4 linked regions of the Homo sapiens genome follow. The protein of the gene in region 1 purifies or fractionates together with the protein of each later gene. This does not show direct contact. Each region holds a gene or a part of one and is shown in the gene's direction. Other genes may lie near its edges.

Region 1 (7,569 bases):
ATTTACTCTTTTTTCTTCTTCTGGGAACAGAATGACAATAGAATATGTGGGAACTAAAAACGACAATAACCAAAATTAAAAGCTGACTACGTGGACTCCGTAGGAGAGTGGAGATGACAGAGGATGTAATTAGTTAACTGGAAGGCAGACTGAGAAAATTTACTCAGTCTGATCAGAGAGAAAACAGACTGAAAATAAATGACCAGAACGTCAGCTATCTGCGGGACATTAACATAAGAGCTAACCTTTGCATCATCAGAGTCCCAGAAGGAAAGGAGAAAAAATGTGAGACTGAAAATGTATTCAAAGAAACGTCTAAAGTAATCAAATCTGCCCAAAGACCTAAAGTTACAAATACAAGAATCTGATTTTATCCCAAATATAATAAGCCCAAAGAAATACACACCAAGACACAGCATAGATAGCCTTCTGAGAAGTAAAGACAAAGAAAATATCGTAAAAATGGCCAGAGAGAAATAATTATCTATAAAGGAATACCAATTCTAATTGTAGTGAATTTCTTATCTGAAACAATTGAAGCCAGAAAAATGTGGCACAACATTGTTCAAATGCTGTAAAAGACAAACAACACAATTGAATAAATATTTTTCCAAGGGTATACAAATGAGCAAATTGTGCATGCTCAAGATGAAGATGCTCAATATCATTAGTCATTAGGTAACTACAATTCAAAACTTAAGTACATTCACTGGATGGCTGTAAACAGAAAGCCAATACAAGTATTGGAGAGATTGTAGAGAAATGAGAACTCATACATTGCTGGAGAGGGTGTAAAATTTGCAGCCACTTTGGAAAACTATTGGTAGTTCCTGAAAATGTTAAACATAGAGTTGCCATATGACCCAGTAGTTCTACTATTGGTTATGTACTCAAGAGAAATGAAAACGTATGTCCACACAAAAACTTGTACATGAATAGTCATAGTAACACTGCTTATAATAGTTGAACAGTGGAAACAAATAAAATATTTGTCAACTGATAAATGGTAAACATATATATCCATTCAGTGGAATATTATTCAGCCTTTAAAAGGAATGATGTATTAATACAACGTATAGCACAAGTACAGCTACAACATGGACAAACCTGGAAAACATGCCAAATGAAAGAATCCAGTCACAAGGAACACATATTGTTCAATTATGTTTTTATGACATATCCAGAATTGATAAAGGCATTTTTGATTGAAGATATTTTTGTCTAGAAAGACAAAAATATTAGTGGTTGCCTGGGACTGTAGGAATGGGGACTGTGGTAAGCTGATAAATGGTCTCTTAAAAGATATCTGTGTCCTAATCCCTGGAACCTGTGATTGTTACCCTTATATGGCAAAAAACAAAAAAAAAATGATCTTTGCTGATATGAGTGAGTTAAACATCTTGAGATGGTGAGATTATCCTGGATTACGTAGATGGGAACTAAATGCAATCACATGTATCCTTATGTAAGAGAGTCAGAGTGGGATTTGAACACAAAGAGGAGAAAGTGATGGGAAGATGGAGCAGAGGGAGACTGAAGATGCTGGCCTTGAAGATTGGAGTAAAACAGCCCCAAACCAAAGAATGCTGGCAGCTACCTGAAGCTGGAAAGGCAAGGAACAAATTTTTCCCTAGTGTCTCTGGAGAGACTGCAGCCCTGTCGACATCTTCATCTCAATACAGTGTGAACTGACTTCAGACTTCTGCCTTCAGAATGGCGAGACAATAACTTAATACTGTTTTAAGCCACCAAGTCTGCAGTAAACGGATCCAGGGAGTGCCTGCTAACGGGCATGGGGTTTCTTTGGGTGGGGAAATCCTGCAAAATTGGTGTTAGTTGTACAACTCAGTGAATATATTGAAAACCACTGAATTGTATGCTTTAGATGGGTCAGTTTTATATTATGTGAATTATAGCTCACAGAATTGTTGAAAAAAGTCATTGTGACCTTGGGTTAAGCAAAGATTTATTAGATATGACATAAAAATTGATTCATAAAAATTATATATTGGACTTCACCAGAATAAATCAACATAAAGTGCTTCACTTTTCCATTCTGGAAAGAGAGAAATGACAGGAAAAAACCCCACCAGATCAGTGTTTGTCTGGGACTGAAGGGATGACTAACAAGGAGCAGAGGAAAGCTTTTCGGGATGATGGCACTCTTCTCTGTCTCCATTACGGCATTGGATACAAGTCTCTAGAACTCCCAGAACTCGTCACTGAAAAGGGTGAATAGTACTGTATGTAAATTAGGCCTTAATTTTTAAATGGGAAAAATAAATATAAAGACAAAATACACTGCTGTATTAAATCAAATGATAGATGTAAAAGTCTAATGTATACGTATTTTTAATGATTTTGACCAATGCTTCCAAATTTCTCTTAAGAAAGATTGAATCCAGTGCATACTTCCTCGATCAGCGAATGAATGTTTGATTCTTTCTACCCTCATCAGCACAGTGATCCCAAGGGTCACACTTTAGACGATGATTGGCTCAGTGCTGGGCGCACTGTATCAGTTTCATAGAATCATGGATTCCAAGCGCATAAAGTCCCCACAAGAGATAAATCCCCCACTCCTGAAGCAACTTACTGTTCTGATGGGGGAAGGGATGGAGGAACTTACTGTGTGTGCTGGGGAGGGGAGATGGCCCCTGAACTCAGGGAGCTCAGGAAGTTCTGAGGACTGGGTGAGAAACATTGAAAAAGGAAGGGTGAATAAGGAAAACAAAACACGTCTGTGAGCTGAGAGGTCTCAAGTGACAATCGTGTCTCATTCCTACGCCCCCAGTGCCTACCTAGCCCCATGCATAGCAATGAGGTTGTGGGAATGAACAAATGAATGAATGAATTAATGAGTGAGTGAATGAGTTGAGAGACTACAAAAGCTTAGGGTCAGCCGAGATAGACTTCTTTGCTTGGAGCTTGGGGCTTCAAGGTCAATTTAAGATTGTGGCCATGCAAGCTTGAGGACTTTTTGCTCTGAGTCCTGTTAAAATTAATGAAAATGGAGACCAGGCCTGAAGAGTCCCTGAGCAAAAATTAAAAAAACAGTTAGGCCTCATAAGTGACCTCAACTTTGCTTGATTTGCAAATATCAGTGAAACTTAACACGAGCTATTTCTTGTAAATGTGTATATTAAGGAAAAATAGAACTTAAGCTCAACCAATCAAAAGAAACTTATATAATTAACTAGGGTCTTTCCAACAGGATAGGCCAAATAAGGGAACTATATAACTATAACTAATTAAATATTTTCTTCAGTTTACTTGTCCTGTAGGAGTCTTCCCCTTGCATTCCCCCAGTGGAGCTCCTCAACCTCTTCTGTTTGGAGCTGCCTGATTCATGAATTGTTGTTTGCTGAAATAATCTGTTTAAAATTTTATTGTGCCTCAGTTTACCTTTTGACAGTCCCATCTAAGGAGTAGAAACATGGCACTAGTGAGTAGGGGGAGCATACATAATCACGGGAGTCCAGCTGGGTCCCCACACACTGAAGGAGCAGATGACACAGGTACCGGACATCAAAAATTGATGCTTCTGATTCTAGGCCTTGGGGTAAGTGAAGGGTGTGGTCTTGGGCCTAGTGCTGGGTCATTTCCACTGGAGCTGGTGGCTGTACAGGCGAGATAGCATTGAGCAGGAGGAAGTGGAGGGCACTTGCCTGCGTGCTGACGTAGGCTGGAGGCAGGGGAGGAAGGGGGTCTTGAGATGAGGTGGGTGAGGGGAAGTACTGCGGAGGCTGTAGGAAGCCTGCACGAGGGACTAGGAGTCTAGAGGGAGCTGATGGTGAGTAGAGTCGACAGGAGGAGAGGCAGGGAGAGGGACAGAGAGAGGAGACGTATGGATAGGGAAAAGGAGAGGCTGCTGGGGTGTGTGTGAGACTGTGTGCATGGGCGTGTGTGTGTGTGTGTGAAAGTGAATAAAAGACAAAGTGAGACTGTGAGTGTGAGTGCATGTGCATGCACACCTGTGTGTGAGAGTACAGGAACCCCTCCCTCAACCCAAAATTTATGCCCTGAGTCTTAACAATTTGCATTTTTCCCGCTTGACAAAAGTAAGATTTCAAGTGAGCCTGTAAGAGGTTATTTGCAACAGTGAACACAAGTGACTGTTCTGAGCAGCCAGGAGCCTGGGAGAGAGAGAGAGGAAGGAACAGAAAGAATCTGCAATGAATGAATGAATGAGAGTTTATAAGAACTTCCCTGTGAATGTATATATGTAAGAAACTAGGGTCTGAGATGCTCCATCTCAGCCTAAGAGCCCGCACCCCTGGGTCTCTGAGCCCAGAAGATTCCAGGAAGGTCTATACCTGACGTTCCAGAAGCCTCACCCCAGCCCCCTTGCTGGATCCTAGGGACCAGTTTCTGGGGGAGGTTGGGGAGGGCGGGGAGCCCTCTGACTGTGAGTCCTCCCGGCTTGGGGCCCCAGACTGGGTGGAGCAGCCACACCTGCCTGAAGTTCCGAGGAAAAGGGCGGAAACAGCTGCCAGCACCGCCCTCATAATAGGCTCAATGAATCCCTGCGGTTGGCTGGGGGCAGTGGGTCCCACACTGCCTCACTTCCCTAAATGGGCAGCTTCACTTTTAGAACCCCGGGTCCTTCCCTGGCAGGCCCAGGTGGCACATCCTGTGTCGGGTGGGCCCTCACCTTGGATCTCCAGGCCTGACACTGCCCAGCTGGATGGAACCATGGCCCCAGCCTTCCTGCTGCTGCTGCTGCTGTGGCCACAGGGTTGCGTCTCAGGTGAGGGGAGAAGGGGCTGACTTGTGGAGGAGGGAGTGGGTACAGAGGCAGGAGCTCAGGGCCTTTTTCTTACCCTCCTTACCAGCAGTTTTCTTGTTTAGTGTTTTGTGGGTTGGGGAAGGAGGAGATTAGGGCTGACTTAGCTCTTTACCCTAATATCAGGCCCCAGGCGAAGCTAACCCAGGCCTCCCAAGCCAAGATAAAGCTCTGGACCCTCTCTGCATTGGCTCCTTTATCTGCTAGGCTTCCTCAGGCTTTAAAGCAGAGCCCTCAATTTCCTCACACAAATAGCTTTCTCTGCTTGGCCTCTGTCAGGAAGCCCTGCTTAGTTATGACAGCAATCATTGCATCATGTGTGTTTTGAACTGAATTTGAACATTTTTCTTGAAATGCTGATGCCACATCCTGTCCCTGCCTCTGTCCTGAAGGGACCAGTGTGTGAATGCCTTTCCCACCTCACAGATACCAATGCTCCTTGAGGAACCTCACCCATTCCTGCCCCTCTCGCTGCCATGGCAACCAAGTTACCACTTCCTGTTCAGTTCTGGGCATGGTGGGGGTTGGCAAAACTCACCACTGCCTGTGAGAGGGGTGGGAGGTGTAGGCACACATGAAGACATTGCCCTGGAGACCCATCCCAAGGTCACCCAACTCTGCACCTCCCAGAGGGTAGAGAAACAGCTTCCCACTGCCAGGGCAGAAAGGGGTCTCTCTTGTGCTAAGAAATCCTGGGCTCATCCACCAAATAATGAAGTTGGATCATTCTGTTTAGTTTGCAAGGGACAGAGGGATGCTTAGAGAGGGTGCTGCTTCACACAGAGCCTCAGCTCTAGTGGCTGCTGGCTGGGACTTGGGACGGATATCCTGGATTCTGGTGGGACAGATGTCCTGGATTCTGGGCCCTTGACTGTCACAGCTCTGGGTTCCATTGGGGGAACTGGGAGGCCCCAGCATGTGGGAAAAGGAAGCATGAGTTGAGCATGCACTGTGTGCAAAGCACTGACCTGGGGCAGAATTCTCACAGCAACCTGTGAGGGGTGTGGTGCTATTCTCACTTGACTGATAAAGAAACAGAGATATTTCTGTATCAGTCAAGTGTCTGTTTTGATATTTCTGTATCAAACAGGTGACCTAATCACACCACTAAGTGGTAGAAACAGGGTTTCAACCCTTGTTTATTTTGACTCCAAAATGTGTGCTCTCTGTTCTCTACTATGGGGGAGAGTCTTTTTATATGTGGTTTTTTTGGAAGACTCTGGGGTGAAATTATCAGAAGAGTCAGCTGAGCTTAAGGCAGGCAGAGGGGTGGAGGGAGCCCAAGGCAGCTTTCTCCCTCTCTCTGTCCCCTGAGTCACCCTGCACACCCCAGTTCTGCTCTGTCTCTACCAGACTGTGGATTATGAAGGCTTGGACCACATCTTACTCCTCAGCATAGAGAGAAAGATATTGCAGGTGGAAAGTGAATAATTGTAGAATCCTGTGGTTCACACTCCATTGGGAGTTTGTTTACATGTATATTTAGACAGGCTTGATCTATGGGTTTTATGTAACTAGAATATTTTAAAACTAAACACCAGATGGAATGAACTAAGGAGAGTTATTATTTAAAGAGGACTAAGTGAACCTATTTGTGAAATAAATAACTGTTAATCATATTTTCAAATACTAGATTTTCTTATCTACCTAGTTAGTTGGGCACTGAAATTTCACAACTTAATGACCTGTGTTTGTGTCTCTGCATCTGTCTCACTGAGGGCATGACCTGGGTTTTTCCCACAAGAATTCCCTGGGATGCCGGGCACAGTGGCTCACGCCTGCAATCCCAGCACTTTGGGAGGCCGAGGCAGGTGGATCACGAAGTCAAGAGATTGAGACCATCCTGGCTAACATGGTGAAATCCCGTCTCTACTAAAAATACAAAAAATTAGCCGGACGTGGTGGCAGGCACCTGTAGTCCCAGCTACTCAGGAGGCTGAGGCAGGAGAATAGTTTGAACCCAGGAGGCGGAGGTTACAGTGAGCTGAGATCGTGCCACTGCACTCCAGCCTGGGCAACAGAGCGAGACTCCGTCTCAAAAACAAAACAAAACAAAACAAAACAAAACAAAAATGAATTCCCTGGGAATCCCTGAAGACAGAGCTTGTCACTTTCCCATCAGACTAGAAAATACCATGAGGAAAGGGGCTGTGTCTGATGGAGCTCCGAGTGTAAATGCTGCGTTTCCTCCATTAGACTGGGGACTCACTGAGGGATATACCTGCCTCCTCCATCAGACTGAAAGCTCCCTGAGAGCGGGGGTTGTGTCTCCACTGTAATACTGGAAGCTAGCTGTTTTCAGGGCCCATTCACCTCCCTTCAGATTGGGGCAAGCTCCCTGAAGGCGGGGCTGTATTTCCCCCTCAATCTGTGGGTTCTGTGACAGCAGGACAATATCCACTCTACCCTTCACCATGATCTTCAACTTTCATGATGTCTTCTTCCTCTCCTCTTGCCAGACCTTATTCAATAAGTATTGTCTCCACAGGCCCCTCTGCTGACAGTGTATACACAAAAGTGAGGCTCCTTGAAGGGGAGACTCTGTCTGTGCAGTGCTCCTATAAGGGCTACAAAAACCGCGTGGAGGGCAAGGTTTGGTGCAAAATCAGGAAGAAGAAGTGTGAGCCTGGCTTTGCCCGAGTCTGGGTGAAAGGGCCCCGCTACTTGCTGCAGGACGATGCCCAGGCCAAGGTGGTCAACATCACCATGGTGGCCCTCAAGCTCCAGGACTCAGGCCGATACTGGTGCATGCGCAACACCTCTGGGATCCTGTACCCCTTGAT
Region 2 (7,091 bases), on another chromosome or scaffold:
AGAAGAGGCAAGCTCCTTGGTCATAAATTATTGGAGTAGCACAGCCAATTGGAGATTTCTCTCCCAGGATTTGAGATTGAGCTTGCAGGCTACCTTAGCCATCAGAGACATAGGACCCTCTAGATCTGGATAGAGAGCTGGTGCCTCCCAAAGTGCCTGTGTGCTGAGGGTAATGGGGAAGTAGAAACCAAGAGCCTTCTGGAGTAAAATGGCACAGACCTGCAGGGAGATGCAGAAATAAGATACTGGGTAGGGGTGGGGGCAGAGGAAATGAGAGTGAGAGACAGTTTTCTTACTCTAGGATTTCTATGAACATCTTGCAGCTGAGTTCCTGGAGATATTCCAGCATCCTTAACGTGAATCCAATTTTAGTTGTAAGTTAGCCTGAGGTAGTTGCTGTTCCTTGCAATCAATTGTCACTGCCCCTGAACCAGAAGGCTCTGCTCCCATAGTACCTTGCATGTGCCTCTATTAGAGCACTATCTCCTATCATCAGAGTTATGCAGATGTGTGTCTGCTTCCACCTGGGGCGCAGCGCCCCTGTTCATTCAGTATCCCTGGAGCCTAGTACTTGTTGGATGCTCAAAAAATAGTTGTGGAATTTGAATTCTCCCAGTTCACAAAATGGTTTGTTGATGTATCATTTGTTAGGCAAACCTTATAAACTCTATGTTTCCCACCATATTTCACTATATTTGCATTATTTTACATCTTTCAAAAAATCAAATTTGCTTTCATGCTACTCACAAACTTTGCACATTTACGTGGTTTGGCTTTCTCATTATTTTTCGCGGTCACCAGGAATGATTCATAGTCAAGCAGTGGTCCATGCATCCCTCTAGTTGGTGAGAATGTCTTATATGCAACCCATCTTCCAGTATTCAACTGACTTCGACCTTGAAATGGATATTTCCATGAAGGCTGTTGGGGCAGCTTAATTTCAATGATGTCATTTAAAACACATTAAAAAGTCAGCAGGGAGGCTAAGCACAACTGCTTCCTTTAAAAACCTATTCAGAATCATCGATCTTCAGAGCTGGGGCCAGTGGTTCTCAGGCTTTTGAGTTTCTATGAACCAGCATTAATATAAGAAAAAAAGGGAGGGGTTGCTGAATTTATCCTTTTCCAGAAAATAGCATTAAAACAAATTCGTCTCTATTAACATAGTATAATTTCATAAAATAAAGGGCATGCTAACACCAATATTATCCAGAGCATTATCTCCTAACTTATCAAACACAGTCAAGTGTGGCTTAACAACAGACATAAGTTGTGAATCTTTAGGCAGTTTCATCATTGTGCGAACATCAGAGTGTCCTTACACAAACCTAGATGGGAAACCCTACTACATACCTGGGCCATATTGTATAGCCTATTGTTCCTAGGCTACAAATCTATACAGCACGTTGCTGTACTGAATACTGTAGGCAACCATAACACAATGGTATCTGTGTATCAAAACATCTCTAAACACAGAAATGGCATAGTAAAAATACGGTACTATAATCCTATGGGGCCACCATCCTATAGGCAGTCTGTCGTTAACAAGAACATCCTTCTATGGTGCATGACTGCATATTTGACTTTACAAAAACTCATGATATTTTGATTTCTAAATAATGTTTGAAATATTTAAATATTTCTAAATAACATGCTTAACACTGTGCTTGGCACATGGTCAGTTCTCTGTATTATTATTATTAGTGTTTAATCAATGTTGGTCATGTTTCACACAAGGGAGAATACTTTTTTCTTCCCAAAAGGTTTGCTGAGCTCTTTCATGGATTTGAAGTGTGTCCCTAAGGGGTCAAGTTTTGCTGGGGAATGCAATGACTCTGACTCTGTAAAACAAACTGAGAAGATTTAAGATTCTCACAGGTATTCTGAGGAGCGCAGAAGTGAGAGGAGAAGAGAAAAGAAAGGAGTCTGCAAGATGAAGACTGAGGACTCATTCCCATGAAGACCACAAACTTTCATTGTTGAGGAGGGAGGTGGGTGAAGAATATTTTGCAACTCGGGATGGATCAATATACAGTTTGAGGGTTTTATATTTCAGGAATGTGAATAACTTCTTTCATGCCACCCTACTTCCAGCTTCTGTAACATTTATAATATGCAATGTGCATGAATGTTATGAATAGGTTTACGGTGGAAATCATAGAAGGGTCTACATTTCTCATTTGAGTTGAAACAGTGTAGATCCCAGAGAGCAGCCCAGAAGCAGAGGCCAGGAACCAAAGGGGACCAGAGAACAGAAGTTGCCAAGATCTCCGAAAAATCTCGGCCATGGTTTGAGCATGGTTCCTCAGCAGACACCTATCTTATGTCTTCATAGTAATGAAAGCCATTCTGGTTTCGTATCTGGGCATGATTCGGTAAGGCATGATAAGCCTGGTTCCGAAGTTCTGTACCTGTCCCAGCTGGGTCAGGTCTATTTTTGTGGTAGAATCACCTACAGTTAAGAGAATCCTTGGCTTGGAGGTTTTCTTCTTTTTTTTTTGAGACAGGGTCTTGCACTGTCGCCCAGGCTGGGGTGCAATGGCGTGATCTTGGCTCACTGCAACCCCCGCCTACCGGGTTCAAGTGATTCTCCTGCCTCAGCCTCCTGAGTAGCTGGGACTACAGGCGCGCACCACCACGACCGGTTAATTTTTGTATTTTTAGTATAGACGGGTTTCACCATGTTGGCCAGGCTGGTCTCGATCTCTTGACCTCGTGATCTGCCCGCCTCGGCCTCCCAAAGTGCTGGGATTACAGGCGTGAGCCACCACGCCCGGCCGGCTTGAAGGTTTTCAAGGGCTAGAGAGGAGCCCTGCCCTGGCTCCTTAGGTACAGCCAGAATCGGCCTTTAAGGTATGGGATATCTGACTCCTGCAGGACTGGAACTCCACGTGCTTGGAGGGATAAGCATTTATGATGTAACCACTAAGTAGTCAGAGGGCAGGAGGAGTAACGCTGTTGCTGGGCAACCTGGCTTAGCTTCGTGGCTTTGGTTAAGGTGCTACTCTATGCAAAATTCCTTGCCGTCTTCCCTAATCCGCCTCCCCAATTCTCCCTTCCTGAACATTAGGGAACCCACTGGCCTGCTTACAACTGAAGCAGTTTCTGTGTTAGGGCAGAGAGTAGTGATCAAGACATTAGGGTTTAGTGTTAGATAAACCAGGCTCCACTCTGCGGCCCCACGCAACCTCCCCACGCTCTCTGCACCAGTGTTGGCATCTGTCAAGTGGGTGGGGGCTAACAGTGAATAACTGCCTCATAGATGGACTACCGGCTTAACCAGAGACTGACAGCGGGTCGCATATTAATCTTCCAATCACTTGGCAAACTCGTTTCACTATGCATCTCTCCTCCTGGCTGTTCTTTCAACTTCCTCCTCCCTGAAATTTCGAAGATCCACCTCGGTGGGAAAGTCATTCCGCGTGGCGCGCCCTTTCCCTGCGTCCCTCCTTCCCAGGGCCCACCCTCCGCGGACGCAGAGCGTCTGCCGGGGGGACGGCAGGTCCGCGATGGCTGCCTCTGAGGCAGTCGGTCCCCTCTCGCCGTGGGCTTGGGAAGCGTCCGAAAGGCCCGCTCGGATCGTCTGCGGTGCTGCCCGCAGGGAAAGCGCCGCTGCCAGCCGGGCTGTCACGGGTGCGAGTGGAAGAAGCACACCGCAGGATGAGCGACGCCGCTGCAGAGGTAACCGCGGGGACTGCGGCCAGAGACGGGGGATGGGCGCAGCCGAGGATAACGGGATGGCCGGCATCCGGAACGCGTCAGGCCCGCTCCGCCGGACCGCCTTATCCTCCAGCCCGCGTCCCCAGCCGTCCTCCCAGATCCCGACCGCAGCTCCAGAAGTGACGGCCACGTGGGTGGCGGCGCGCGCCGCGGGGATTGGAATGTTGGCGTGGGGGGACGAGGTTGGAAGGGCCGCAGAGAAGTAAAGGAGGACCCGCGTCCGCGTGCCCGGGCGCCGACTGCTGGGCGACGCCGCCGGGAGCGAGCACGCCTCTGACGTCACGCGCTGCTCGTCCAATGAGTGGAGGCCTGAGGGAGGCGCCGGTCCCGGCCCCGCTGCCGCCGCCGCCACACCGGCCCTTCGGGAGCGTCTGAGGAGGCGCGGGCCGCTGCGGGCTCGGGCGCCGCAGCGCGCCGGCCCGAGCCCCTGGACGAGGCCCACGGAGCCGCTCGCCCCGACCCAGCCGCCCGATGTCCTCAAAATGGAGGCAGCGGGGGCGGCGGCGTGAAGAAAGCGGCGCTGTGGGCGCGGGAGTAGGGGCCCGGGCGGAGGCGGTGGCGGGATGGGGCTGCTGCTCATGATCCTGGCGTCGGCCGTGCTGGGTTCCTTCCTCACGCTCCTCGCCCAGTTCTTCCTGCTGTACCGCAGACAGCCCGAGCCGCCGGCGGACGAGGCCGCCCGCGCGGGCGAGGGCTTCCGCTACATCAAGCCAGTGCCGGGCCTGCTCCTAAGGGAGTACCTTTATGGCGGCGGCCGGGATGAGGAGCCCTCCGGAGCGGCCCCTGAGGGCGGCGCGACCCCCACCGCGGCCCCCGAGACCCCCGCCCCGCCGACGCGGGAGACTTGCTACTTCCTCAACGCCACCATCCTATTCCTGTTCCGGGAGTTGCGGGACACCGCGCTGACCCGCCGCTGGGTCACCAAGAAGATCAAGGTGGAGTTCGAGGAGCTGCTGCAGACCAAGACGGCCGGGCGCCTGCTGGAGGGGCTGAGCCTGCGGGACGTGTTCCTGGGCGAGACGGTGCCCTTCATCAAGACCATCCGGCTCGTGCGGCCAGTCGTGCCCTCGGCCACCGGGGAGCCCGATGGCCCTGAAGGGGAGGCGCTGCCCGCCGCCTGCCCCGAGGAGCTGGCCTTCGAGGCGGAGGTGGAGTACAACGGGGGCTTCCACCTGGCCATCGACGTGGACCTGGTCTTCGGCAAGTCCGCCTACTTGTTTGTCAAGCTGTCCCGCGTGGTGGGAAGGCTGCGCTTGGTCTTTACGCGCGTGCCCTTCACCCACTGGTTCTTCTCCTTCGTGGAAGACCCGCTGATCGACTTCGAGGTGCGCTCCCAGTTTGAAGGGCGGCCCATGCCCCAGCTCACCTCCATCATCGTCAACCAGCTCAAGAAGATCATCAAGCGCAAGCACACCCTACCGAATTACAAGATCAGGTGAGCTGGAGGTCGGGGAGGGGGCCTGGCTGCCGGGAACCCGGGCCTGGGCGGGACGCTGCGTGGATTGGGAAGGGCAAAGGCTCATTTCTGTCCTGGCGCCTGCTTCTGGGGCCTTCCCACCCTGGACAGGGCCCCAGATCAAGGCGAGTCGTGAACACTTGCTTTGCTTCCGAACGGCATTGATAGGAGCTAGAAACCTTTTCGCGTGTTCATGGGGACTCAGGGTGCTGTCAACGCGGGCAGAATCGTCTCCTTTTATAAGCAGCATATTGGAAATGGAAGGGAAGCCTACCCTAATCCCCAGGAGTCGCTTCTGGGACTGTTGAGAAACTCTCCCTCTATGTGGTTGCTGCATTGAGGGCAGCCGCGTCACTGGCTTTGCAGCATCCCCTTGGCCGCTTTGAGAAATTGTTCCTGGACACAGTACACGCGTGAAGAGTGTGCTTATAGCCCAGGTCTGTGCTAATTTGACATTGCAAGCCACTTTTGCTTTGATGGTTTGACACCTTTCAAGGCAGAGGTGGTAACTCTTGCAAAGGAATACTTTTGTGGGTTTTTTTTGTTTTTGTTTTTGAGACAGAGTCTTGCTGTGTCGCCCAGGCTGGAGTACAGTGGCGCGATCTCGGCTTACTGCAACCTCTGCCTCCCAGGTTCGAGCGATTCTCCTGCCTCAGCCTCCCAGGTAGCTGGGGTTACAGGCGTATGGCACCACGCCTTGCTGATTTTTTTTTTTTTTTTTTTTTTTTTTGTATTTTTTAGTAGAGACGGAGTTTCACCGTATTGGCCAGGCTGGTTTCGAACTCCTGACCTCAAGTAATCCGCCTGCCTCGGCCTCCCAAAGTGTTAGGATTACAGGAGTGAACCACCGCGCCCGGCCCGGGAATACTTTCCACAGCAGATGGGAAAGGAGTTGGGAGCCTGTACATAGTGTACTTTACATTTTGTATTAATGTCATTTGCCCATTTTGGGTAGATTGTAGAACACAGATCCAGACTCTGCCCATCAAGCATTTACTCTCTGTGACTGTAAGTTCTTCTCTCAAGGGACCTGAAGTCACTGTACAAATTGTATTTTAATGCTAGGTAGTGATTTTAATTTTGTTTAAGCCTTCCAGCATCTGATGGCTTAAATTTTGTGGTATACAGTTTTGAGTAGTATATAAATTTTGTTTTAATATTGTAGGAGTGGAAGGGGAAAGACTTTTTTAGGGCTAGAGGTGGAGTGGAAGGTGCTTTTTCTTTTGTAAAAAGCTGAATTTTTAACTTCTCTTTCGGTCCTCCTTTAATTTTGTATTCACTAAGACATTTGAGCCTTTAAAATTTTGCCCTTTATTATAAAATTATGTCAGTCTTGTATTTTACTTACCTAATTTTACTTGCCTTTTAGTGGAAGTTGCCTATTTCTGGATCACTAATTTTCTACCAGTGTCAATTTTCAGGAGCAAGATAATCCAGAAATATTTTGGGTTTGGAATGGATTATTGACTTCTGTATGTGGCAGATGTACCTTACCAATTATGTTTTGTTTAGGCTAACAGCGCAGAGTGACAGTTTAAAACTTGCGTGGCAGGAGAAATTTACTTTGTAATGGAAATATTTCCATAGATTTGCGGAGGGTGGTGAACTGGTTGTTCACTGTGTTCGATTTCTGGTTCTGTGAAGTAGAACATACTTTATGAAACCTACTTTTAACCTCTGGAATATCAGTGATTAAATTATAACTCGGTTCTAGTGTTTAAGCAGTGAGAGATGTTTATTTATAGCAGTGTGTTGCCAAAAAAGTCATGAGAAAAAGTTGCTAGAAATTTTGGTATTCTATCACAACTTCAATTATGATGTTTTCTGATAGCTTTCAGTTAATACAATTTGACTAGATTATTATTTTGAAATTTGTAGACTAGCCAATGACAGTGAGATTACATATCATTTTGAG
Region 3 (7,023 bases), on another chromosome or scaffold:
AACTTATGAAGAAGCACATTTTTGGTTAAGATGACAAAAGGGGCTTGTCTTGCCCCCTACAGTAATTTAAATATAGTCAGTTCTGGCCATTAAGACATACTAATGGGAAGAGTAGAATATTGAGATCTTCCCATAGTAAAAGGACAGAAAAGTATTTTTCTGAGAGAAATTAAAAAAAAAAAAAGAATAGACAAATTCCCAGTCCACTATAGAGGTAAAAGAATGCTGGGTGGATATTAGAATCACAGAGTAAAGTTCTAAAGGATTTTAGGCTTCGTCTTCCTTTTTGCTTGATTATTTTTTAAAAACCCCTTCAAATGGCATTTAGTCTTATCTTAATCATTAAGGTCAAAGAACTCAAGGAAGGTGGTTCCTTGCAATTCTGTATCTGAAATGTATTCAAATGTGTGAATCCATCTACCAAGAAGAAATACTACAAAATTGAATTGTTCATTTTAAAAAGCCACTGTGCACTGTTGTTCTTAGTGGTCATAAATCTCTCAAAACAAGACTTTGCATCTTTTTATGATCAAAGTTAAAGTTTTGCTGTCAGTTCAGCCAGTGACAGGTTTAATGTTTTTCCTTGTTCCTTTTTTGGGGACCACCTCTTTGACTAGGATCTCTTAGAGTATCAGGATGGGGAAAAAGGAGGGATAAATTAAATATGTGCTTATATGTTAAGGACCAAAATTGTAAACAAGTCAAATCTAAGAGTCGGTATGAGTTATTTCTTCTCTTGTAATTTTGTTTATTTAGATAATCTTCAATTAATAGATTGGTAGGCAGGATTTGACAATCCTTTTGTCATATAAAAGTGATATTAAATTAACATAGATTTTTCAAATGAAAATCCAGAAAGAGAAAATAAAGATGAATAATGAAAATATCTAAGGCCGCACGCAGTGGCTCACGCCTGTAATCCCAGCACTTTGGGAGGCTGAGGCAGGAGGATCACCTGAGGTCGGGAGTTCAAGACCAGCCTGACCAACATGGAGAAGCCCAGTCTCTACTAAAAATACAAAATTAGCCGGGCATGGTTGCACATGCCTATAATCCCAGCCACTCGGGAGGCTGAGGCCAGAGAATTGCTTGAATCCAGGAGGCGGACGTTGCAGTGATCCGAGATTGCGCCATTGCACTCCAGCCTGGGCAACAAGAGTGAAACTCAGTCTCAAACAAACAAACAAAAAAACAAACAAAAAAAAGAAAATGTCTAAAAGGTGCCGAATAGTTTGTAACATGAACTCAAATCAGAAGTTGTAAGTGATTTGCATCTTGTCGATTCCCAGGATATATTTGAAGAATTTAGTTATTAATGATACAGTTTGCCCTATAATAAGTCTTTGAAGCCCCTTATAAACATTTATTATATTCGGCCCAGTGTGGATTTCTAAATATGTCTGTATAACATTTTCCAAATATCATGTTTAGAAAACAATAAATATTTAATTTTATTGGGATAATATGACACACTTTTATTTAACGAATATTTTGATATCATTGATTTTTATATATTATCTAGATTTTAAAATGTAACAATTTGTTTGGTTTGATAATATTTAGTATCTAGCTTTAGCCTAGGATGCAAAAGTCCAGTGTGTCCACATAGCGGTAGCATGATTTGAATCTAACAAATTTGGATACCTAGTTTACCTTTTTTTTTTTAAACAGCGCAGAAAAGGAACCAATATTTCAGAAACAAGCTTAATAGGAACAGCTGCCTGTACATCAACATCTTCTCAGAATGACCCAGAAGTTATCATCGTGGGAGCTGGCGTGCTTGGCTCTGCTTTGGCAGCTGTGCTTTCCAGAGATGGAAGAAAGGTGACAGTCATTGAGAGAGACTTAAAAGAGCCTGACAGAATAGTTGGAGAATTCCTGCAGCCGGGTGGTTATCATGTTCTCAAAGACCTTGGTCTTGGAGGTAGGTTCATATTGATTTTCAGGAGAGTTACGTGGTATGAACAAGCACTCTTCACTTAGACCATCCTATGACCAGTAAGAAGGTATTCCATTTTATTTTCATTTATAAAATTTTCTATACTCATTTACCAACAAATTTGCATGAAAGTGAGAGCAAAGGATAAAATAAGCATTTAATAGTATGATTAGATGTGAATTAGACTTAATGAGATATAATAAAATGGCCAAAAGATTGTAATGGTCAAAATTAAGGACTGGAAAATCCTAGAATGAGGGCATTAAATTTTGTGAAAGGCGAAGGGAACTGTCATTTGTAGAGGGTATGTTGTATACTTGTTACAGTGTTATTACTTAGAATCTTTTATTTAAGCACCATTCATCCATTCAACCAGTGCTTTTTAAGCACTGGCTATTCATTTAGGAAATATTTATGCACTGTCTACTTTGTGTGGGGATGGGGTGGTGGGGTGGGGTGGGGTGGGGAAGGTGGGAGAGACACAAAGAAGCAAGCCCTCCCCTGTCTTTTTTTCCAAGGGCACTAATCCTATCGTGAGAGTCTACCCTCATGACCTAATCACCTTCTAAAGGCTCCATCTCCAAATATCATCACATTGGGGATTAGAGTTTTAGCTTAGGAATTTTGGGAGGACACAGACATCCAGTCAATACCATATTTGAACATTTTATGTCACTAATATATATACTAGAGTCCACTTTTTCACTTGACAGAAACATATTTCCAATACTGTTAACCATTCTTTATCAGTATCTTTTTAAGCCCAAGCATAGTTGTTTTTCAGTTGACTTCATAATGTACTTCACTTTTCAAACTTAGATGAATGTTTAGGTTATTTTCAGTTATCCTTTTTTAGGTAACACTATAGTGAACCTATTCTTGCATGTAACTTTAAAGATTATTAAATATTATGTCTTTAGGATGAATTTCTTACATGGATTTCCAAGAGTAAGATTATTACATCGAAGGATGCTAATTTCTTCATGGTTCTTGATAATTATTGTTATATTTTCTAAAATATAATATTAGTTCATAGTATCACCAGTAGTATATGAATTTATCAGTTTTATCATAATCTCATCAGTGATTTTGATGGTGTCCTGTTGTTTCAATTTTTACTTAATTTTTTTTATCGTTTGAACATTTTTTCTGATTTGTTCACTGTTTCTATATTGCTTTATATGAATCATCCATACATGTTTTTGTCCATTACTATTGGCGTCTTAATATTTTTCCAGTGGTTTTTAATGAGTAAATTTTATTATATATACATGTATTAATCTTTTGTTCTATTTCATATGTCTTTCCCAAAGTATTGTTTTAGTTTTTATTTTTAAAATTAATTTTTTAACTTTCTAATTTTCGGTTGGCACTTTAAAAATGTGATATTTTCTATTGAAAGTTTTTTATTTTTCAACTGCTTTTGCTGCTTTAGATTTAAGAAAGAAGTTTTTACATGATTCTGATGAATTCAGTGTTTTGTTTGCTGCCATTTAAATTATTTGATGTACTAAAAAGTTCTTTGCAGTTTGTCCTGAGTCACTTTTAATGGATAGTATGTAATCATCAACAGTTGGGGGATAACTCTACCCTTTCCATTTGGTTTGGAAAATCTACTTTTTCATATATTCAGTCATTATATATAAATTGGGGTTTTTTTTTGAGTTTCCATACTGGTTTTATTTTATTTTTATTTCTTTTTGGTGACAAATCTACATATTCATACATTGAAAGAAGTGTTAAGAAGGACTAAATGTGTTCCTATGTCTTTATGGCAGAACAGGTTTACTCAGGAGAGGATTATGGTTTATTTCATGTTGCATTTTCTTTCTGAAGTTGAAGTGGAATTACAGACCTGAAATAGTTATGTTGTTATCTTTAAATGATATTACAGATTTGCTAAGACTCTCATTGACTTCCAGAAGCATTCACAGTTTCTGAAATAGTTACATTAGTTTTGTTCAGTTCTCCAGATTTGAAGGCAGAGACTCATTTTTGATGTGTGTGTGTCTTCTTTGGTTCTTAGTTTAACGCTGGGTGTGTTAACAGAATTGATTGTTTTGAACTCGATTGCTTTGCAGATACAGTGGAAGGTCTTGATGCCCAGGTTGTAAATGGTTACATGATTCATGATCAGGAAAGCAAATCAGAGGTTCAGATTCCTTACCCTCTGTCAGAAAACAATCAAGTGCAGAGTGGAAGAGCTTTCCATCACGGAAGATTCATCATGAGTCTCCGGAAAGCAGCTATGGCAGAGCCCAAGTAAGACCACAGTTTCAAATATATAATTACTAAAGAATCAATGCATTTAAATTTGACCTTTGTACAAATAAGATTTTATAAATTTTAATGAATTTTTGGGGCATAGTCTAGAACATATGTATATTAAAATAAACTGTCAGTCAAAAGAGTGTTAGATATTCAGTGCTTTTGTTAAGAATATCATATAGAGAATTTTCCTTTGACATGGAACTATGAAGAGTTCTCCTTTGACTAAATGAAAATTACATAATTTTTATGTGACGGGAATTTAGAGGATATATTTGTAACTAAGGCATAAGTCCATTTGTGCACATTTTGGAGTTTGAGTTTGTGGTTACGATACTTTCTATTAGAAGTCAGGATACAAAACTGCAAGGAGAAATCCCTGTTTCATTCTCACTAAAGACCCAGTCTGTTAGGACTGGCTTCTTCTCTTGTTTATTAACTTATATTTACCAGTAACCTTTAAAACACTAATTGAAGAAGTTTTAAGCGTGAGAACCCTCATGTGACTGACACAGACTAAAGTATTGACAAAGCAAGTGAAGAAGCAAGTGGACTTAATCCTTTGGACTAAAAAGACTTGATATCCATGGAAGAAGAGTATGTTCACTGTATGAAAATGGAAAAATCGGCCAGGTGCGGTGGCTCATGCCTGTAATCCCAGCACTTTGGGAGGCTGAGGTGGGCAGATCACGAGGTCAGGAGTTCAAAACCAGCCTGGCCAATATGGTGAAACCCCGTCTCTACTAAAAATAAGAAAAAATTAGCCAGGCGTGGTAGCACGCACCTGCAGTCCCAGCTACTTGGGAGGCTAAGGCAGGAGAATTGCTTGAACCCAGGAGGTGGAGGTTGCAGTGAGCCGAGATAGCGCCACTGCACTCCAGCCTGGGCGACAGAGCGAGACTTGGTCTCAAAAAAAAAAAAAAAGAAAATGGAAAAATAGTCCCAAATATAAAGATTATAAAAATTACCTGTGATCTTTCTGACTAGAAATAATTACTCTTTCTTTTTTTTGAGACTGAGTCTCGCTCTGTCACCCGGGCTGGAGGGCAGTGTTGCAATCTCGGCTCACTGCAACCTCTGCCTCCCGAGTTCAAGCAATTCTCCTGCCTCAGCCTCCCGAGTAGCTGGGATTACAGGCACATGCCACCACGCCTGGCAAATTTTTGTATTTTTAGTAGAGACGGGGTTTCACCATGTTGGCCAGGATGGCCTTGATCTCCTGACCTTGTGATCCGCCCACCTTGGCCTCCCAAAGTTCTGGGATTACAGGTGTGAGCCACCGTGCCCTGCCAGAAATAATTACTCTTAACAGTTTGCAGGATGCATTCCAATACTTGTTTTCCCCTCTGTGTATGAATGTATGAGGGTATGTAAAGTTTCTCTGCCTATATTTTATTTTTTAACAAATTAATTTATTTTTAACAAATTAAGATGAAAATCCAATGTTACTTTTTAAAATATTTTTAAAATATTTAATGATTACTAATGATTACTAATGTAATCATTAGTAATATGTATTAAATGTTGATAAATTAGAAAATAAAAAACACACATTGGACACGTGTTTGCACACACATGCATGTCCAGTTTATATGGATAAACTGGAGATAAGGAATTTATATTTAATTTAAATTGCTGAAATGTGCTGCTTTAGAAATGTATTTTTTTTTATTCTTTAGTGCAAAGTTTATTGAAGGTGTTGTGTTACAGTTATTAGAGGAAGATGATGTTGTGATGGGAGTTCAGTACAAGGATAAAGAGACTGGAGATATCAAGGTGAGAAATACCAAATGTCACCTCTTCCTAAGAGATGTTGTTTTTCCTGCTTTTTCACTTACCCCTTTAAAAAAGTAGGCTTACCGGTTTACATGTTGAGTATCTCTTATCTGAAATGCTAGGGATCAGAAGTGTTTCAGATTTTTTATTTTTTTCAGATGTTTGCATTATACTTACCAGTTGAGCATCTCTAATCTGAAAATCTGAAATTTGAAATGATCTAATGAGTATTTTGTTTGTCACATTACTGCTCAAAAAGTTTTGGATTTCAGATTTTTGGATTAGAGATACTCAGCCTGTGTTATTTATCAAATGAACTGAGTTCTTTCTAAGCCATATGCAACAGGATGGGTTTCAGATTGCAACACATTGTTCTTTAGAGGACTTCAGAATGCTATGCAAAAAACATTTTAAACAGAACTAATGTGAATAGTTTTTGAAACAGTAATATACATCAGCAGAGAAGCAGAGGGGAACTAGCAGGGGAAAGAAGGCAAGATTCAACATAAAAGAAATGATTCAGATAAAATGAGCAATTTAACTCAGGTAATAGTAAGAGAATCTTTTTAAAAACAATTTATCCTTTTATTTTATTTTATTTTATTTTGTTTTATTTTTTGAGACGGAGTTTCACTCTTGTTGCCCAGGCTGGAGTGCAATGGTGCGATCTCGGCTCACTGCAACCTCCACCTCCCAGGTTCAAGCGATTCTCCTGCCTCAGCCTCCTGAGTAGCTGGGATTACAGGCATGCTTCACCGCATCCGGCTAATTTTGTATTTTTAATAGAGACGGGGTTTCTCCATGTTGGTCAGGCTGCTCTTGAACTTCCAGCCTCAGGTGATCTGCCCACCTCAGCCTCCCAAAGTGCTGGGATTACAGGCGTGAGCCACCGCACCCGGCCAATTTTTCCTTTTTTTAAAAAAAAATTATCGTAGTAAAAAACATGTAATTCTGGACTGCTCCCCATAGGGTTACCACCTCTTAGAAATTGTCCTCTAATGAAGGTGACTGGAATGTTTTCTCTGCTCATACTGTAGTAT
Region 4 (7,863 bases), on another chromosome or scaffold:
GTGAGAGGCAGTATTATATGGTGGTTCAAGAGCAAAGACTGAAATTAGACTACCTAGGTTCAAAGACCCTGTCTCCTAGCTGTGTGACCTAGGGCAAGTTACTTAATCACAATTAAGCTTCCTCATCAGGGAAATGGGAATTAAAATAGTACCTAATTAACTGGATTATTGTGAAGATTAAGGGATTTAATATATATAAAGCACTTAGAATAGGCCTGGCAATTAGAAAGCATATGGACAGGTTAACTCTTGTTGTCTTGGTTACTTCTTGTGGCTCCTGTCAAGATCCTACTAGAAAGAGATAAGCCTTGGTCTTAGATAGCTGGGAACAGCATACGGCTTTGTTAAAAGAGATCACGCTCCTCACTGCTCTCATGCCCCATCTCAGCAGACAGCAATCCAAGACTGCTTAGGGTTCGGAATTACAAAACCAAATTCCCTGCTAAGGCTAAAGTTGATCTGAACAAAAGTAAGGGCAAGGCAAAGAGAATAGACATTAGACAGGGACCTGAAAGGATCCAGAAATGGGACTTTACATCCCACAGAGGAAACAGGTAAGGTGTTTCCATACAGTGACAGAGAATAGATCAGTGGCTGCCTAGGGAAGGGGTGGAGGATGGGTGGATTTCAAAGGGTCACCCCTTTTGGGGGTGATTGAAATGTTTACCTTGATTGTGGTGATGGTTTCACAGGTGTATATATTTGACAAACTCATCAAGTTGTATACCTTAAATATGTGCAGTTTCTTGTACTCGAATTATACTTTAGTAAAGGTATAAACAAGAGAGAGCAAGAGGTAGAAGCTGCAATAGCTTCTGTGACCTATCCTTGGGAGTCACACACTCATCATTTCTGCAGCATTCTGCTGGTTACAGTGATCAACCCTGATACAACCTGGGAGGGAAATACATGGTGGTTTGCACACAGGAGGTGAGCATTGTTGGATCCATCTGGGGGATTTCTGGCCATCCCTCTATGTGGAGAGAACAGTATGTACAAGGCCTTGAGGTGGGCTGGTATTCCAGAAAGCCTTAACTGATTAACTCTACTCACCTCTGCTGAAAAGTTGACTGTTACTTGGTGCAATGGTTTTTTTTTTTTTTTTTTTTTTTTTTTTGGTTTCTTTTGTTTGTTTGTTTTGTTTTTTTAAGACAGGGTCTTGCTCTGTTGCCCAGGCTGGAGTGCAGTGACACCATCAGTCTCGGCTCACTGCAACTTCTGCCTTCCAGGCAGTCTCAAGCAATCCTCCCACTTCAGCCTCGGTGCAATGTATGTTAACATATCATCTGTCACATCTTCCAAAATTTGAGTCCCAGGTTCTCCAAAACTTCAATGGGTTAGTTAGACTAACCACTTTCAATGCCTAAGTGTTCTAATATGTCAAGTTCTCCTCTGACCTTATGCTTTGGTTTATGAAGAGTGAAATTATGAGGAGTGTCAGCATGTTTGCAAGCCAATGGGATGGAGTATGATTTAAGAAGCAAGAAAGAATTTTGTTTTTCTTAAATCTGAGACCATAAATTTCTGTTCACTCTGCTTATCTCCAAGGCTGGTCCTGGCTGGAGAGGGGAGAAAAAAGAGAAGGAGAGGAAAAAGCATTGATCAGTTTTAGAATTTTAAGAAAATATTTGCATATTTTAAGAAATTTAACCTAATTTTTTTAACTTTTTACTTTAAAATGATTATAGATTCACAGGAAGTTGCAAAGATGGAACAGACGTGTACTCTGTACCCCGTTCTCCCCACTAGTAAATTTTACATAATTTTAGAACAATAACAGAACCAGGGAATTGGTATTGGCAAAATCCACAGACCTCGTTCAAATTTCACCAGCTTTGCATGTACTCATGTGTGCATGAGTGTTTGAAGTTCTAGATTAGAATAACAACCACCACTACTAAATCATGGACAAGATATATAAAGGGAAGTTTGAAACAGAGCATTTAAGGGAGAGAGAATGAGAGCTATAAACTGCTTATGTTTAAGAGACCCAAGATACTGTGGAAATTGGCTAATCTAAACAAAATATCAATGCACTGATATGGGGAACTGCATGTGGTGAACAGTGCAGTGAGATATTCCTATTGAGGGATCCCATGAGATTACTAAAGGTAAGAAAGTAAGTTATATTTTCTTATAAATAAGACTCTAGGTAAGACCTTGTCTGCCTGAAGAATATCAGAAAACTAGACCATGACCTGAACGCTTGTAGCTGGGGTACAGCCAGGCAGGTGTAAGCCAGAGCTTGTGGAGGGAGGCTGCTAATAGATTGCAGAGCTCCTCTCCACCGTGGCCAGGTTGCAGGATTTCTGAGTAAGGGTGCTGTGAGCTTTTGGGGCAGGGCAATTCTTTGTTGGGTATGTCTTTACATAGTGCCCAGATCGTTAGCACTCTGATGACACCCTGGCTAGCTGGCACTATGGCCACTGTTCATCCAACACATTTCCAAAAGCATCTAAGGGATGTGAAAACATCCTCAATCAAAAACCACAAACCCCTTATTGTTCTTGAGGAAGAATATTCCCTCCCTAGATTCCTCAGTCCCTGTTTCCACTCACAGTTTCCACTCACTCTTTTTTTCCCCCGCCTAGGGACTGCCGATCTTGGAGGATCTGGATTTTTAAAGTTATTTTTGTATAATGCTTTTGTTATGGAAGATGGCAATTGCTTACGCACAACTGCCTTCATCTTAGCTGACCTGAATGGGCCTTAGCTGCCATGAATGGGCCTTAGCTGCCATGAATGGGCCTGACCCCAGACCATCAAAAGTGACCATTACTAAAAGGAGGGAAGGCAGGGTACCATTCTATTACATCTGGAATTAAAAATGAAGGTTACCAGTTATAGAAAAGACTTTCGGACTTTATTCAAAGCATTTTAATAATACTTAGAGAAGATTGATTTATTAAATGCTAGCAACTCTCATTTTAACATTAACTTCCGAACTTCAAGGAGGTTTTAAAAAATTGAATTTTAATTTTTAATTTTTGTGGGTACACAGTAGGTGTATATATTTATGGAGTACATGAGATACTTTGATACAGGCATACAATGTGTAATAATCACATCATGGTAAATGGGGTATCCACCCCCTCAAGCATTTATCCTTTATGTTACAAACAATCCAATTATACTCTTCTGGTTGTTTTAAAACATACAACTAAATTATTATTGACTATAGGCACCCCATTGCACTATCAAATACTAGGTCTTATTCATTCTTTCTATTTTTTGTATCCGTTAACCATCTCCACGTCCCCCCCAACCCTCCCACTACTCTTCTCAGCCTCTGGTAACTATCCTTCTACTCTCTATCAAGGAGGTTTAAATTTCAAGGAAAGGAGAATTCAATCAACGTGGGCTTATTGCTTCTCATGTCAACACTAAGCTATGTATTCCAGACTCTTCAAAAGAAGCATCAGATTTGCTACTTTATTTCAAGGATTCTAAAGTTCCATTGGAACAATACTATATTAACCCTGAAAATAATTAAAAAACAATTTCAGATATAGTTCAGAAGTAATTGTGAAAAGAGGTGAGATTAGGGAAAGATGACTCTGAGTCCAGATAACCCCAAAAAGCTTTTTAGAGAAGGATGAGGGTGGGGAGGCAGGTAGGGGGTTTATAATAGGATTTAAAAAGAGAAGGAAGAGCTATTTAAGGAAATTTGATTACTGCAAGTAACATTCTTCAAAACATTTAAAGAAAAACAAAAGTTTGGCAGGCAAGACTAGAAAAAGAAAACAACACTGGGGAGGGAAGTCACTGCTTCTTTTATTTCCATGACTGTTTTAAAGTCATATTTAGTTTCAGCCAAGGAAGAGCCTTTGACATCAGAGCACACAAAGTACTCTAGGAAATGAAGAGGATGAAAGTTCTACTGCATCAACGCCCAGAACTTTCTCCATTTGGCCACAGGTCGTTCTCATACATGGCCTAGTTTCTATGCACTCTAACTGGGTCCCTCTGAGGCTTGTGAATGGAAAACCCTCTTGCTTTCAAATGCTTGAAAACAAGAAAGATGCTACTATTGATGCCTCAAATACATGTAGGTATTTAGTGGGAAGCAATTAAATGTTTTGAAGGTCATTTCAAACGGAAATTAATCAAAAACAGTATTTTACTCTTTTGTGTATTAGAGTAGGCAAGACCTTGGTGTTTTCATTACATTCTCTGTTTTTATTTGCTGTTTACATTAGGATGTGAATAATGGCTTGGGTAAGGGGAGGATTTGGTACCAACCTAGGCTTTGGTTGCCAAACAGACACCAGAGTAAATTTGTGTGTGGTCAGAATCAGGTTGTAAGGTGCCAACACAGCACATGGCTTCAGTCTTTTTTTCTCTAATTGTAAAAGGACCTTGTCCCCATGGAGGGACCATTGCCTTGGCTTGTGGGGTCTTGAGTGATAGCCACAGTCTTTCTTCAGCACTTTCTCGACCTCATGAAAAGATACTGAAGCTTGAAAAGGGGATGTTCTTTCTGAATAGGAATGGAGAAGAGGGGCCAAGCAAGAATGATTCTATCTGTCTCCTGGCCGTTGATAGTGTCCCTGTACAGAGAGGAAATAACGTAGTATAATATGTAGCTTATGTTTGAATCAGCTTCTTTAAAAATACTGGAATTTTATTTATTTATTTTTGGTAGACACAGGGTTTCCTCATGTTGCCCAGGCTGGTCTCGGACACTTGAATTCAAGCAATCTGCCGGCCCCGCCGGGTGTGCCGCATGAGGGCGCGGGCCGCCCAAGGACCGCGAGTGGGGCCGCGAGTGCTGAGCCCGGCGCGCCCGAGCCGCTCCTCCTCCCGGCCTGCTCCCTGGGCGGAGCCGGGGCAGTGCGGCTCTGGGCTGGCCGAAGGGGTGGCGCTGCGATCCCGCAGGGCAGCGACGCGACTCTGGTGCGGGCCGTCTTCTTCCCCCCGAGCTGGGCGTGCGCGGCCGCAATGAACTGGGAGCTGCTGCTGTGGCTGCTGGTGCTGTGCGCGCTGCTCCTGCTCTTGGTGCAGCTGCTGCGCTTCCTGAGGGCTGACGGCGACCTGACGCTACTATGGGCCGAGTGGCAGGGACGACGCCCAGGTGAGGACCGGCCAAAGCCTCTCCCGAGTGGGAGGCCGGGCTCGGAGCTGCCGAGGCGTGTCCGGGTCTCCGGGGGTTCTGCAGTGATCCCGGGTCCTTTGTGGGTTGCGTGGAGCTTCCCGAAGGCCCGGCTGCCCCTTACGCAGGGGCTGCGGGTTGGGGAGGAAGAGGCGAGGGCTAAAAAGCCCCTTTGTCTTCTGTACTGGTCGGAAGATGGCATGGACTTGCCATTCAGGCTAGGAAACCTCTCCAGGGAGTGCCAAACTGTTAAGAGAGCACTGGAGTCGGCGGTGCTCCTGAGGACTCTGACATCTTACGCAGGACTCAAGGGATTCTGGTGTTGTCTCAGAGGACGATACTTTGAGAAACAGTGAGCGTCCCCCTGCGTTTGTAAGGGAAACTCCTTTGTAAGTACCGGAAGCCCGGTCGTTCTACTACCTGAAGTAGTCTGTCCTCCACTTCCCACTCCTGCAGTTTTGAAATAAAATCTGAGATAATCCGAAGTCCTTCACCTACTTACTCATTCTAGTCAAACACTAGAAAGAACTAAAAATGGCAGTTTGCTGGAGCGAGATCATTATTGGCATACTGCCTATCTCACTTTATCTGTGTCTTGCTTAATATTTGACATCGTGTACATTTGCTGTATGTTGGCTCAGCGCTTTACACACATAACATTTAACTTTTACAACAACTCTTACAAGGTAGGCATTATTAATCTTATTTTCCAGATAGGGAAACTGATGTTCAGAGAAATTAAATGACCTACCGAAAGCTAGGCTTTGGATCCTTAAGGACTTGGGGAAATGGGGTTTCCCTGGACCAAGTTTCTGGTATAAAAATACTCAAAGCATGTTACAAAGTTTGCTTGGAAGAGATAGTAGCTCGAAAGATAGACTATGTTTGGGGGGGGCGTTATGGGTTGGGCGTTGAGGGGGGTGATATTGATCCCAAGGTGAGAATTGGTTCCTGTGGACAAAAAAAAAAAAAAAAAAAAATCTGGTAATACAGTGGTTTGTGCCCCTCCAAAGCTTAACCCCACCCGAGAAAATATTATTCCTTAGTATTTCATTTTTCTGGTTGGGTTTTCTTGGGTATAGCATGTGCAGCACTGACATTGAGTTCACGAAAAATACACAACATGGACGCCACAGCAGTGCTACAAAACTATGGCAAGTGATTGGGCTTTCTCCTTTTAAAGCAGGAATCCCAAATACTGCACAACTTCATTAACCAAGGGCTTTCTCTTGATCGATTGTTCCACCTCAGCGGGGGAATATGTGTGCCTATTGGCTGCCATTGGCTGCCTTGCAGACGTTGTTTGTGTTTGATCTTTAGTGCTTTTGTGTTCACTTGGACTTGGAGAATTAAACGAAAATAGATTATATTTTATTATTTAATCCTACAAAAAATATTCAACCCATCAAATTATGTCAAGTGCTAAAAAGCAAAATTATTGACAACATCTGAATGAATATCTCTAAGCTACTAAGTTAAAAGTTATTTTCTCATATTAAGGAAAAGTTAAAAGTTAAGATCATTGAAAATTTTAAGAAATTCATTTAATATTTTCAGTTGTGTTTTGTCGGAAAAGAACAGTTTGAAGGATTTTAAATTTAATTACATTGTTATCATTATGTAGTTATATAATTTGCAAATTTGCACATGTAGTTTGATAAATTGCTATTTATCTAAGTAAGTTACATAAAAGTTATTCAGCAAAAATCTGGCGTGGTGGCATGTACCTGCAATCCCAACTACTCTGGAGGCTAAGGTAGGAGGGTCATTTGAGCCCAGGAGTTCAAGACCAGCCTGGGCAGCATAGTGAGACACTGTCTCAAAAACCATAAAAATGTTTTTCAGCAAATACAGTTATAAAGTTAGAAGTTAATAACTTTTAAATTTTAATTTAACATTTAACTTAATTTTAAAATTTAGTCATATGCTTATTTAGTCATATGCTTATTAACTAAGGAGTAAGCTTTTTTTCTTTTTCTTTTTTTTTTTGAGACAGAGTCTCGCTCTGTTGGCCAGGCTGGAGTGCAGTGGTATGATCTTGGCTCACTGCAACCTCTATCTCCTGGGTTCAAGTGATTCTCCTGCTTCAGCCTCCCTAGTAGCTGGGATTACAGGTGCGTGCCACCACGCATGGGTAAGTTTTGTATTTTTAGTAGACCTGGGGTTTCGCCATGTTGGCCAGGCTAGTCTCAAACCCCTGACCTCAGGTGATCCACCCCGCTCTGCCTCCCAAAGTGTTGGGATTACAGGCATTAGCCACTGCGCCTGGCAGGAGTAAACTTTATAGAACTCCTTTTATGTATAAAGCACAGATATATGTACAGTACATAAATGATATACAGTATATCTGTGGAATTAACATTTCACAGGAGAGTTTTAGGGGAAAAAAAAGTCTAAAAAGACTCCTGGTGGAGGTAGGGAGTGAGAAAGAAGAAAAGATTAAAGGAAAATTGAAATAGACTCAGATTCCCAAAACAGCTCAGACTGGAGAGATGGGCAGACTCTATCAAGATGAAAAAAGAAAAAAAAATCCTTCTTGACTTCTCTGTAGGTTTATTATTTTTTGTCACTTAAAAAAATAGCACACTCACATAATACAAAAGTAAAAATACAAAAAGATATATAGTAAAAAGTAAAGAGCTTTCTCTGACCCTTGTGCCCTAGCTACCTAGTGTGCTTCTCTCGAGGCAGCCACCATTTCCTGCCTCCTCTGTATCCGTCTAGAGAAATTCTGTGCATTTCCAAGCATATATCTCACATGGTGATTTTTT

What was found.
Region 2: the proteins of TREML2 (region 1) and PDZD8 purify together in Homo sapiens (affinity purification with mass spectrometry; 3 studies listed by BioGRID and IntAct, with this or other methods). This does not show direct contact.
Region 3: the proteins of TREML2 (region 1) and SQLE purify together in Homo sapiens (affinity purification with mass spectrometry; 2 studies listed by BioGRID and IntAct, with this or other methods). This does not show direct contact.
Region 4: the proteins of TREML2 (region 1) and DHRS7 purify together in Homo sapiens (affinity purification with mass spectrometry; 3 studies listed by BioGRID and IntAct, with this or other methods). This does not show direct contact.

What each region holds. Positions count from the first base shown.
Region 1 is NC_000006.12:41,198,135-41,205,703, reverse strand, and holds the start of TREML2 (trem-like transcript 2 protein precursor), read left to right. Parts: upstream 1-4,554; 5' UTR 4,555-4,695; coding exon 4,696-4,750; intron 4,751-7,274; coding exon 7,275-7,569. UniProt on the Homo sapiens protein: Cell surface receptor that may play a role in the innate and adaptive immune response. Acts as a counter-receptor for CD276 and interaction with CD276 on T-cells enhances T-cell activation.
Region 2 is NC_000010.11:117,372,420-117,379,510, reverse strand, and holds the start of PDZD8 (PDZ domain-containing protein 8), read left to right. Parts: upstream 1-4,070; 5' UTR 4,071-4,283; coding exon 4,284-5,155; intron 5,156-7,091. UniProt on the Homo sapiens protein: Molecular tethering protein that connects endoplasmic reticulum and mitochondria membranes. PDZD8-dependent endoplasmic reticulum-mitochondria membrane tethering is essential for endoplasmic reticulum-mitochondria Ca(2+) transfer.
Region 3 is NC_000008.11:125,001,505-125,008,527, forward strand, and holds part of SQLE (squalene monooxygenase), read left to right. Parts: intron 1-1,671; coding exon 1,672-1,924; intron 1,925-4,020; coding exon 4,021-4,201; intron 4,202-5,886; coding exon 5,887-5,983; intron 5,984-7,023. UniProt on the Homo sapiens protein: Catalyzes the stereospecific oxidation of squalene to (S)-2,3-epoxysqualene, and is considered to be a rate-limiting enzyme in steroid biosynthesis.
Region 4 is NC_000014.9:60,162,388-60,170,250, reverse strand, and holds the start of DHRS7 (dehydrogenase/reductase SDR family member 7 isoform 1 precursor), read left to right. Parts: upstream 1-4,852; 5' UTR 4,853-4,941; coding exon 4,942-5,074; intron 5,075-7,863. UniProt on the Homo sapiens protein: NADPH-dependent oxidoreductase which catalyzes the reduction of a variety of compounds bearing carbonyl groups including steroids, retinoids and xenobiotics.